Linked DNA regions of Homo sapiens. The protein of the gene in region 1 interacts with the protein of each later gene in a biochemical or structural test. Each region holds a gene or a part of one and is shown on either strand. Other genes may lie near its edges.

Region 1 (7,292 bases):
CAACAGACTATACCAGATAGCCTAAGTGTGTAGTAGGCTATACCATCTAGATCTGTGTAAGTACACTCTATATATACACAATGATAAAAATCACCCAGCAACACATTTCCCAGAACATATCCCTACCATTAAGTGACACATGACTGTACTAGAATAAACCATCTCACATTTTTGTTATTTTTGGTCATATAACTAAAAACATCTCAATGGTTTAAGTCCAAGGATTATGTGGTCTTCACACTAGTGAAGCAGTATCATTAAATTAATTCAAGCAAACTTAATTTCTGGTAGAGTTAACAACCCATTTACTAGTTATTAAATACCGGAAGACTTCAGTAACACTGAGATGTTGCCCTTGAAGTCTTAAAATAGTTTTGGGCTAAAGCTGACAAAAAACAAATTTTTTTTTTTTTTGGTTTACGTCTTTAGTATCTGAGCTACCATGTTAAACAAACTTTAAGGAAGTATTCAAACAAGAAAAAAAATAATTTCTTCATTTAGTCACACATACACGCACCAGAAGCACAAAAAAACCAATAATCGTACAAGGACTTCTCAAATTCTTCCTTATATATTGTGTAAGAATTACCAAATAGTAAAATCTGGAACATTCACTTTTAATTTTCCAAGCAAACAAGCTAATACACAGGAAAGCAAACTGCTTGCTTAGTACTCATTTTTTTAAATCTTATAATCTGTTTTCCCTTTTCTAATCCAAAGATTGTTTTGTCACGCACAAAAGATCAAATCTAATTCTACAGAATTGGAGAAAACAAAAAATTCATTTTATATATACATATATATGTATATACATACACACATATACGTATATACACACACATATATACATATATACACACACATATACGTATATATACACATATATACGTGTATATATATATATACACACAAGATTAAATTAAATATTTCTCAAAGGAATATTTAGACATTTCTCACATTTTACATAAATGTGGCAGGTTATGCTATTCATGATGACACTTAGAAAATTAATTTAGTAAGTTGATAGAAACGGGTACAAAAACACACTGCAAAACAAACACACACAAAAAAAGTATGAAACTGGATCCAAAAGGGTGTTTTGAGTATAAAACTATATTTAAAAGAGGGTTTCTTCTTTAAAAATTTTATTCTAGAAGTCAACTCCTTGACTTCTCAATCAAGAATCAACCAATCCAAGATGCTATTCATTAAAATTTACCAGGCCAGGTGCAGTAGCTCACTCCTATAATCCCACCACTTTGGGAGGCAGAGGCAGGTGGATCACATGGTCAGGAGTTCAAGACCAGCCTGACCAATATGGGGAAACCCTGTCTCTACTAAAAATACAAAAAAATTAGCCAGGCGTGGTGGCGCACACCTGTAATCCCAGCTACTCAGGAGGCTGAGGCAGGAGAATAGCTTAAAACCCAGGAGGTGGAGGTTGCTGTGAGCCAAGATCACACCACTGCACTCCAGCCTGGGCAACAGAGGGAGACTCCATCTCAAAAAAAAAAAAAAAAAAATTACCAAAATCATAATACATTTAACGTAGACCTGAAATAAGGCTCTCAGCTTAAACATTTTACCTATATTTTTGTATCTTTAACCTAAACTTCTAACATCGAAACTGTAAGACATGTTCCCAGAAACTTTTTCTCAAAACAAAAAAAAAGTATTTCCAAGTTAAAGTTTTCACATTGTTTTTCTCAAATGTAAATTTGCTGTTAATGGAATTAGAAAGTTACCTATGAGCTATTTCTAAATACTATTAATTTTTAAACCTAGAGAGCTTTTTTCCGTTTTCCTCTTGTTTTATTTTTATAGCACTATACTTACATATATTTTTGTAAACAAAATATATCTCCTCAAACTTTTAAAGAAATTGTTATGTTACTTTCCTTAAGGGTTAGAATGTTCTATGACAAATATTATGTACATGAAATTAGGAATGGAGTGATACAAAAGTTTAACAGTGGTTTTAAAAAATTATATTGGCCGGGCACAGTGGCTCACGCCTGTAATCCCAACACTTTGGGAGGCAGAGGTGGGCGGATCACAAGGTCAGGAGTTCGAGACCAGCCTGGCCAACATGGTGAAACCCCATCTCCACTAAAAATACAAAAATTAGTCAGATGTGGTGGCGGGTACCTGTAATCCCAGCTACTCAGGAGGCTGAGGCAGGAGAATCGCTTGAAACTGGAAGGCGGAGATTGCAGTGAACCAACATCACGCCACTGCACTCCAGCCTGGGCAACAAGAGCGAAACGCCATTAAAAAAAAAAAATTATATTACATCCTTATAACATGGAATGAAAACAAATCTGAGCATATGCTGGTATAATCAGATCTGTGATCTTTATTAAAATGTAAATTACCAGATAATCTCTAACAAAACAACCCACAGTATTTTAAATTGCAAAGAAATGTTTCCTACCTTGCCTGCTTCTCTTTCTAAGTCGACATACTCTCGGCTAGGTGTTTGTCGCTGTTCTCCCTGCCAGCTGGCCGGAAAAAACTGGAGAGACAGATTGGTTCCTGTGGCCACAAAAGCCTTTTAGAAAAATCAATACAAACAGGATCAGGAGCAGGACATTACATAAATTATGCAAGCAGTCATTTATTTTTACATCAGTTTATGTCTTAAGCCAGGCAGCACAGAGAATACTTAAAAGTAAAAAAAAACATGCACTCATCATTTTTCTTAAGTATTAAGTTACAAACATCTGATTCCATTTTGAGGACATTTGCCATTGGCTGCTTAAGTATAAAATCAGACATGGAATCAATACTTTCTTTCAGGTCATTTTTTGCTGACGTTAGGATCTCACACTGCTAATGTCTAACCAGAAGCCACTATCCATCTCTGCATTTAAAAACTTCTATTTTTAAATGTAAAAATCACTCAAAATCTAAAGATTTTGAATTTTAAAGAATACCACAATTTAAAATTGTATAAATGAGACACTTTAATTTTCCTTGATTTCCCTTGCTGAAACACTGCATAGCAGGCAGTACATAAAAAATGCACTTGGAATTGTCTCTCCTCTGATAAACCATACATTGGCATGGGATGTGACAGTACTCTCTAAAACCCTAGATGATTTTTAAAAATATGTCTTTTCTCACATTTGACTTTAGGAGAACTTGGTCTGACTACAACAAAGAGAAAAGTATTCATCTAATAAATATTTATAGATTAGATTTATAAATATAAAAGATTTGGATGTTAGAGCTCAACAGATGCAACAATCTAAAACCACTTCAATAAAGTGTCATTTTATGTAGGCCTTGAGCAAGTTACCTCTATATTTCCCTCAGGCAAAAAACAAAGACATTACCCCTTTCCCAAAGGAAATTAAGAAAAAAAGAAGTAAAAGCATTTTTGAAAAAATACATTTTTCATCATCTAAATGTAAACTCTTCTTTGCTGAAACCAGAAAAAGTTTTTTGTTTGGTTTATTCTACTAATTAAGTTCTGAAGCATAATTGGTTTCCATGCATAGAGTCTTCATCTCAAATCAAGAGGTTCACATTTGGGGCAATTTGTTTAAAGCCATCAACCAAGTTAGCTATCCAATAGTTCCCCTGATGGTTAACAGCTTAGATTCTTTAGAGGTAAAAATTATACTTCCTATTTCTATTACTGGCACTGTCGGTACACTTGTCAACCTAAATGCTAAATCTCTAAACCTCTCTGATGGCATTTCCCTAATCAACTGGGGTACCATTTTCATGTGGTAAATGTTTTATATCCATAGAAACTGAACTAACATCAATATTACAACATCATTTTAAAAAATCTTTCAGGCCAGGAGCAGTGGTTCACACTCGTAATCCCAGCCCTTTGGGAGGCAAGGCAGGTAGACCATCTGAGGTCAGGAGTACAAGACCAGCCTGGCCAACATGGTGAAACCCTGTCTCTACTAAAAATACAAAAAATTAGCTGGGCATGGTGGCAGACGCCTGTAATCCCAGCTACTTGGGAGGATGAGGCAGGAGAATCACTTGAACCTGGGAGGCAGAGGTTGCATGCAGTCAGCCGAGATTGCACCACTGTGCTCCAGCCTGGACAACAAGGCGAGACTCCATCACAAAAACAAAAAACAAAAAAAACTTCCCATGTACTACGAGCATAAATCTTAACAAAAAACCCCCCAACACTAGTTAAAAAAAAAAAAAGTTTCTGGGAGGGAAACTGCCCAGGCTGTACGACCTGAAGCATAATTCAGTTTTCTCACAAATCAATTATTTGTAAAGTGCTTAAAACAGTACCAAGTAAATGCTATGAAAGTGTCTGCTGAATAATATGATAAATAACTTTAAGCTCAACAAGAAAGCCAACTTTTTCAGCTTCAGATAATGAAATTCTCAGAGCAGAGTGGTGGCAGAAAAGACACAGCCCATGAACGACTGCCCCGTGTCAAAATCCCTGTGGCTTGTTTCTTCAGTATTCACGTAGTAGCAAATCCTTCCACCTCCAGTGTACCCCAAATCAGTTCTGTGCTAAGACACTCTGCAGATCGTATTACCTCATCTCCTGTCTTGATGCCAACCTCAGAAGAGATTTCCTGCTTCATCACTATATGTCCATTATCTCATAAAGATCCCTCTCTGAGACAGAAGTGGTAAACACAGATCATTCTAGAATAACATTTTCCAAACTTATGTGACCATGGAATTCTTTTAATGAAATACCTACATATAGGTAAGAGTTGGAAAAAGTCTGTTCCAAAATATTAATATGGTGTCAACATCGTCATAGGAAAATAAAGACGAAAATAAACAAAATGAAAACATTAAAATGCTACACTAGTATGACGCCTATATTTAAGATTTCCAGGTTGTCTTATGCTTTGTAGGTTTCACAAATTATAAAATAGCACACCTTGTGCCAATCCAACATACTTTTTACCATTCAATCTTTAGAATTAGAAATATGTATTAGTTTTTACTCTTCTCACCACAGAGTAACCATACTTCTTATAAATATTTTTTCTTTATTTGATTATTAGTGTTGAAGACGTCTCCAACATTCTTAACTACATAAGAATTGGTAAGAATAGGCCGGGTGCAGTGGCTCAAGCCTGTAATCCCAGCACTTTGGGAGGCCAACACAGGCAGATCACGAAGTCAGAAGTTTAACACCAGTCTGGCCAATATAGTGAAACCCCACCTCTACTAAAAATACAAAAAATTAGCCGGGTGTGGTGGTGTGCGCCTGTAATCCTAGCTACTCGGGAGGCTGAGGCAGGAGAATCGTGTGAACCCAGGAGGCAGAGGTTGCAGTGAGCCGAGAGCCAAGATCGTGCCATTGCACTCCAGCCTAGCCGACAGTGCAAGACGCCGTCTCAAAAAAAAAAAAAAAAAAAACAACGGTGAAACTCTGTCTCTACTAAAAATACAAAAACAAATTAGCCGGGTGTGGTGGCAGGCGACTGTAGTCCCAGTTACTCGGGAGGCTGAAGCGGGAGAATGGCGTGAACCCAGGAGGCGGAGCTTGCAGTGAGCCGAGATCGTGCCACTGCACTCCAGCCTGGGCGACAGAGCAAGACTCCGTCTCAAAAAAAAAAAAAAAAGAATTGATAAGAATAAATCAAGGCTGGGTGCAGTGGCTCACTGAGGCAGGCACATCACTTGAGGCCAGCAGTTGGAGACCAGCCTGGCCAACATGGTGAAACCCATCTCTACTAAAAATACAAAAACCAGCCAGGCGTGGTGGCAGGCGCCTGTAATCCCAGCAAGTCAGGAGGCTGAAGCAGGAGGTGGAGGTTGCAGTGAACGGAGATGGCACCACTGCACTCCAGCCAGAGTGACAGAGTAAGATCCAGTCTCAAAAAAGAATAAATCAGATTCTACTACAGATTCTTCGACCTGTGTTCACTTTTATTTAATGCTGATTGGGTTTTACAGTTAAAAACTCAATTGGCATAAAATAAGGAGGCTGATTGAGTTTTATAGTTAAAGAGAGATGATCAACACAGCCCTTAAATTATTTCACATCTAAATGCAAAATGAGGCTGGGAGTGGTGGCTCACGCCTGTAATCCCAGCACTTTGGGAGGCCGAGGTCGGTGGATCACCTGAGGTCAGGAGTTTGAGACCAGCCTGGCAAACATGGTGAAACTCCGTCTCTACTAAAAATACAAAAATTAGCTGGGCATGGTGGTATACGCCTGTAATTCCAGCTACTCAGGAGGCTGGGTCAAGACAATCACTTGAACATGGGGGACGGAGGTTGCACTGAGCCAAGATCATGCCACTGCACTCCAGCCTGGGCAACAGCAAAATGAATTCTTCATTAACCTCACTGATACATCAAGAAGATGTTCCAAATAAGAAGAGGACAACTGGGGCAGGAGAAAGGTTGGGAATAGTTTTGAGAACTATGGATATCCTTGCCATTTATGGCTGCTGTCAAAACAGGCAAAATAATGCCTTTTTCCACAGCCAAATAGGAAGAAACCCAGCCTGTTCATAAGTCATGAGATAAATTTCAGGCATTAAATTAAGCAGCCTCTAAATTCAAATAATCAAGTACCTCTGATATAAAAGGTATTGTGAAAAATAGCTGTATCCAGAGGGGTTTATACAAAATTAATGAGGTCTCTACCCTCTAGGAGCTAAGGATCCTGTAATTAAATGTGGGTTAACACTGAATTAAAGGAGGGAAACTAGAAAGAGAGAAAACTAGGAAACGTGAAATTCCTCTCCAAATACCAATAGTTACATTATTTAACAAAATAAGACATGAGCCGTCTTAAGTGCAAACCTCACACAGCATTCAATCTACCTTCTTTAACCTTTAATACTTCTCAGAAATTTAAAACTTGTAAAATGTGTCGAATCAGATACTTGTTTTATTTTTGGAGACCGGGTCTCACTCTGTCACCCAGGCTGGAGTGCAGTGGTACGATCATGGCTAACTGCAGCCTCGACCTCCCGGGCTCAGGTGAGGATCAGATTATTTGGAAGCGGGGAAGGTCTAGAATGTCTAATTCATCCTGGAAATAAATTCATGACAAACACTAACCACCTGTACTACTACTATAATATTACAGCATTTCAGATATCCTATGGGTTGAATTCATAATTCCATTCAGCAAAGTCTGAGATGACAGAAAACACCCTACTAGCTATGATTCACCAAATTTCCAAAAAAATTCAGCTTTCAAAGATAGTGATGATAATACAACACATGGGGCTGCGTATGGTGACGCCGAGCCTGTAGTCCCAGCTATTGGGAGGCTGAGGCAAGAGGATCGCTTGAGCCCAGAAGTTTGAGGCTGTAGTGCC
Region 2 (5,166 bases), on another chromosome or scaffold:
AACAGGAAAACAATCAGCTACAAAATCACCAGTGTCTCCTGGATTCCAATCCTTGGTCAACAGTGCTAGATCTACAGAAGCAAAACTAAAATTTTTTTTCTTTCACAGAGTAGTTTTAAGCCTCCAAGCGTTTGAATCTTTAAAATGTCATTCAGGGACTTTAAATGAAGTAGTGAAGGCTGGGCACGGTGGCTCACACCTGTAATCCCAGCACTTTGGGAGGCCAAGGCGGGTGGATTACTTGAGGCCAGGAATTTGAGAACAGCCTGGCCAACGTGGTGAAACCCCATCTCTACTAAAAATACAAAAAATTAGCCGGGTGTGGTGGCGAGCACCTATAGTCCCAGCTACTCAGGAGGCTGAGGCACAAAAATCGCTTAAACCCAGGAGGTGGAGGTTCCAACGAGCCAAGTTCGCGCTGCTGCACTCCAGCCTGCGTGACACAGTGAGACTGTCTCCATAAATAAATAAATGGGAAAAAAGCAGACGAAGCATACTGGTTTCTCTTTTTAACCTTTATTTACAAAGAACACAACTCCTCTTGACACAAACACACACACATTTCAAGGAGGAGCCCATTAAGAACAACAACAGACTGGCGAGAATGACGGGGCCTTATTGAACACTGTCAATAAGGAACACTGGTCTGTGTACCCCAGACTAGGGGTCACTGCAAACATTTTCTCAGATATGACTTTTCACCTCCAAGACAGGAAAAGAGATCTTGACGTGGAGGCCCGCCCACCTACAAGGCAGAAAGCTCCACACTCAATCTTCAGCATCGTCAAACTGTCCTGTTTCAAAGACCATCTTGGAATAATAGGGTATCAGTGGAGGCGGATGGTGCCAGCTGGGGTCATAGATCATGTCTCCTTGTGGGGCACAGCACACCCAAGGTTTAAGCTCTTGAGAAATGCTCTCCTGGATGTCGTCAGCATCTGCAGGCAGTTTTAAAAGACAGATTAAGGGAAGGAAGGAGGGAAGGAAGGAAGGTAAAAACGGACAGCCAAAAAGGTATGTCTAGGGGACAGATCCTTGCACTTATTTTGTTTAAAAACACACACAGTTCTCCTTTCCTGAAGAATTGTAAATGCGTTCATTCGGAACAGCTGAGAAGCTATGCTTCTCAGACAAGGGTTCTTAGCAGTGAAGAAGCAAACTGGATAACACAGCACTTCTATCTGCAGCTGCTCAATTCATAGCAGAGATTTTTGGAGAGAGTAACAGTTTTGACTTTAAAACAGTGATACATTATGGAGTCAAATGCAAAATTTGGATTTTTTCAATATAAAAGAGAAGGTGTCACAGAAATTGGAGACCTGTAACAGATACCAGCCTAAGCTCATAGATGTGGACCCCTGTTCCAAACTGCCTTCAGGGCTGGTCTGACAGGTGTGTCTGAGAAGGCCTAGTTCAGGACCCCCAGAGACTCCACACCTACCATATGGATTCCCTTGATCTGCTTTCAACTCCGAGTCCCAGTCCTCATTAAAAAGATCGCCAGGCTGTTCCTTGGGTGGACAGTTTGTCCCTTCTGACAGCTCCCAGGTATTCAGTTCTCCATCAGAGTCCTCCTCATCCATGGCAAAGCCTTCCTCTTCAGAATGGGTGCCCTCACCCCGGGCAGGACTGTCATTAGGAATGCTCTGTGTTCCACGGGCTAAATTGACAAAGAGAAGATGGCCTTAGTGACAAACCAAAGAGGACCTGCTCTGTGCTCAGTAAATTTTGGGCAGACTTACTACGAAGGTAGTAAAACAAGTGCACAGAGTCTTCTTTAGCCACCGAGCACTTTTTTAAAAATGCACTTCTTTGTATGTTTTTAAAAGAGCTGATAATTTATTTTCAATAAGACGTTTTGTCTTATACAAGGCATTAATTGTCAGGTCCTTTAATTTACAAAGAGGGCTAGGGACAGTTAACATTTTCAGGTGGTTTGTATGTCACTGAGGCAAAGGGCCTCTGATAAATAATACACTTTCACAATACAAGCCTGAATTAAGTTTTTGCTCTTTTTTTTTTTTTTTTGAGACAGAGTCTCGCTCTGTCGCCCAGGCTGGAATGCAATGGCACCATCTCGGCTCACTGCAACCTCTACCTCCCAGGTTCAAGCAATTCTCTGCCTCAGCCTCCTGAGCAGCTGGGATTACAAGCGCCCGCCACCACGCCCAGCTAATTTTTTTGTATTTTTAGTAGAGACGGGGTTTCACCATCTTGGCCAGGCTGGTCTTGAACCCCTGACCTTGTGATCCACCCGCCTCGGCCTCCCAAAGTGCTGGGATTACAGGCGTAAGCCACTGTGCCCGGTTGTTTTTGCTCTTTTATTCCTCCCTTCAGCCTCAAAGAGCATGTTAGAGGTGAGCACAGGGACAAAGGGGAGCAGGGGCACTGCAGGCAGAAGACCAGAACCCATCTAATCACAATGGGCAGCACCTAGTGCCTCCCTCTGACATCAGGGAGGCCGGAAGGTACATTTTCAAAAGGCCTCACAATAACGGAGGAAAGACTGGGGAAAGATAATGGATTTCCGAGCACATAGTGCTTTGGTGATGCCAGGTCCCAGGAGAGAAGGCAATCAGCCTAAAACAGCCATGCTCTTAATACTGGAACAACAGTAACAGTGATAAGCAATAAAGTGATAGTTCAGAGCAAGGGGTCTAAAGCCAGACTGTCTGATTTCAAATCCGTGTTTTGTCAATTACCAAACATCGGACTGGGCCGGGCACGGTAGCTCACCCTTGTAAACCTAGCACTTTGGGAGGCCAAGGTGGGTGGACTGCTTGAGCTCAGGAGTTCAAGGCCAGCCTGAACAATGTCGCAAACCCTGTCTCTACAAAAAATTCAAAAAATTTAGCTGGGTGCAGTGGCATGCACCTGTAATCCCAGCTACTCAAGAGGCTGAGGTGGGAGGATCGCTTGAACCTGGGAGGTGGAGGCTGCAGTGAGCCAAGATCGTGCCATTGCACAGAGTGAGACCCTGTCTCCAAAAAAAAAAAAAAAAAAAAAAAAAAAAGTGTGATTGAGCTGAAATTTACTTAACTAGTTCCATAACATAAATATAGAATTACCATATGACCCAGCAATCCCAGTCCTAAACATATACCCAAAAGAACTGAAAACAGCTGTTCAAATAAAACAAGGATACTCACAGCAGCACTATTTACAATCACCAAAAGGTAGACACAACATCAAATGTCCATCAATGGATGAATGGAAAAACAAAATGTGGTATATGCATATGATGGAATTATTCAGCCATAAAAAGGAATGCAGTGCTGATACATGCTACGGCATGGATGCACCTTGAAAATACGCTAAGTGGAAGAAGCCAGACACAAAAGGCCACATATTGTTATGATTCCCTTTACAGGCAACTCACATTTGCCTATCCAGAACAGATAAACCCACAGAGACAGAAAGCAAATTAGTGGTTGCCAAGAGCTCAGAGAAGGAAGGAATGGAGAATGACTACTTGGTGAGCACAGGGTTTCCTTTTAGGGTGATGAAAAGATTCTGGAACTAGGTAGTGGTGATGGTTGCACAACACTGCCATTGTGCTAAAAGGCTACTGAATTATATGCGTTAAAATGGTTACATGGTAAATTTAGGTTATGCATCTTTTACCACAATTTTTAAATTGTTTTTATTTAACTGTTCTGTGCCTCAACTTCCACATCTGTAAAATGAAGATAGGGTTGTTGTGAGAGTTAAAAGAAAAAAAAAGGCCAGGCACGGTGGCTCATGCCTGTAATCCCAGCACTTTGGGAGGCCGAGGTGGGCGGATCACCTGAGGTCAGGAGTTTGAGACCAGCCTGGCCAACATGGTGAAAGCCCCTCTCCACTAAAAATACAAAAATTAGGCCGGGAGCAGTGGCTCACGCCTGTAATCCCAGCACTTTGGGTGGCCAAGGAGGGCAGATCACGAGGTCAGGAGATCGAGACCATCCTAACAAGGTAAAATCCTATCTCTACTAAAAACACAAAAAATTAGCCAGGCGTGGTGGCGGGTGCCTGTGGTCCCAGCTACTCGGGAGGCTGAGGCAGGAGAATGGTGTGAACCCAGGGGGCAGAGTTTGCAGTGAGCCGAGATAGTGCCACTGCCTGGGAGACAGAGCGAGACTCCGTCTCAAAAAATAAATAAATAAATAAATAAATAAATACAAAAATTAGCCAGGCGATATGGTGCACGCCTGTAATCCCAGCTACTCAGGAGGCTGAGGCACGAGAATCACTTGAACCCGGGAGACAGAGGTTGCAGTGAGCCAAGATTGCGACACTGCACTCCAGCCTGGGTGACAGAGTGAGACTCCATCTCAAAAAAAAAAAAGAAAAAGAAAAAAAGGGGCCAAGCGTGGTAGCTCACACCTGTAATCCCAGCACTCTGAGAGGCTGAGGCAGATGGATCAGGTGAGGTCAGGAGTTCGAGACCAGCCTGGCTAACATGGTGAAACCCCATCTCTACTAAAAATACAAAAATTAGCTGGGCATGGTGGCATATGCCTGTAATCCAGCTACTTGGGAGGCTGAGGTAGGAGAATGCTTGAATCCAGGAGGCAGAGGTTGCAGTGAGCCAAGATTGTGCCATTGCACTCCAGCCTGGGCAACAAGAGCAAAACTCCCTCTCAAAAAAAAAAAAAAACGGCAGGGGGCTGGGCACAGTGGCTCATGCCTTTGTAATCCCAGCACTTTGGGAGCGTGGGCTCACAGTAATCCCAGCACTTTGGGAGGCCTAGGTGGGCAGATCACTTGAGATCAGGAGTTCGAGACCAGCCTGGCCAACATAGTAAAACCCCATAGCTACTAAAAATACAAAAGTTAGCTGGGTGTGGTGGCGCGTGCCTGTAGTTCCAGCTACTCGGGAGGCTGAGGCAGGAGAATTGCTTTAACCTGGGAAGCGGAGGTTGCGGTGAGCTGACATCGTGCCACTGTACTCCAGCCTGGTGACACAGCGAGACTCCGTTTCAAAAAAAAAAGATATTTTGAGAGAGAACACATTCACGTAACTTTCAGTATACTGGCATAATTGTTCTATATTACTATTGTTATTAATCACATATGCATAATTTATAAGTTAAACCATATCAGAAATAGTATATATAGGAGGAAAAAAAAGCAGTTTCAGGCATCCATTGGGGCGGGGGGGTCTTAGAATGTATCCCCTAGGAA

The links.
Region 2: the proteins of CBFB (region 1) and COPRS form a complex in vitro, tested with the Homo sapiens proteins (one study listed by BioGRID).

The regions. Positions count from the first base shown.
Region 1 is NC_000016.10:67,031,898-67,039,189, reverse strand, and holds part of CBFB (core-binding factor subunit beta), read right to left. Parts: intron 2,552-7,292; coding exon 2,435-2,551; intron 1-2,434. UniProt on the Homo sapiens protein: Forms the heterodimeric complex core-binding factor (CBF) with RUNX family proteins (RUNX1, RUNX2, and RUNX3).
Region 2 is NC_000017.11:31,851,371-31,856,536, forward strand, and holds the end of COPRS (coordinator of PRMT5 and differentiation stimulator), read right to left. Parts: intron 1,661-5,166; coding exon 1,442-1,660; intron 939-1,441; coding exon 769-938; 3' UTR 501-768; downstream 1-500. UniProt on the Homo sapiens protein: Histone-binding protein required for histone H4 methyltransferase activity of PRMT5.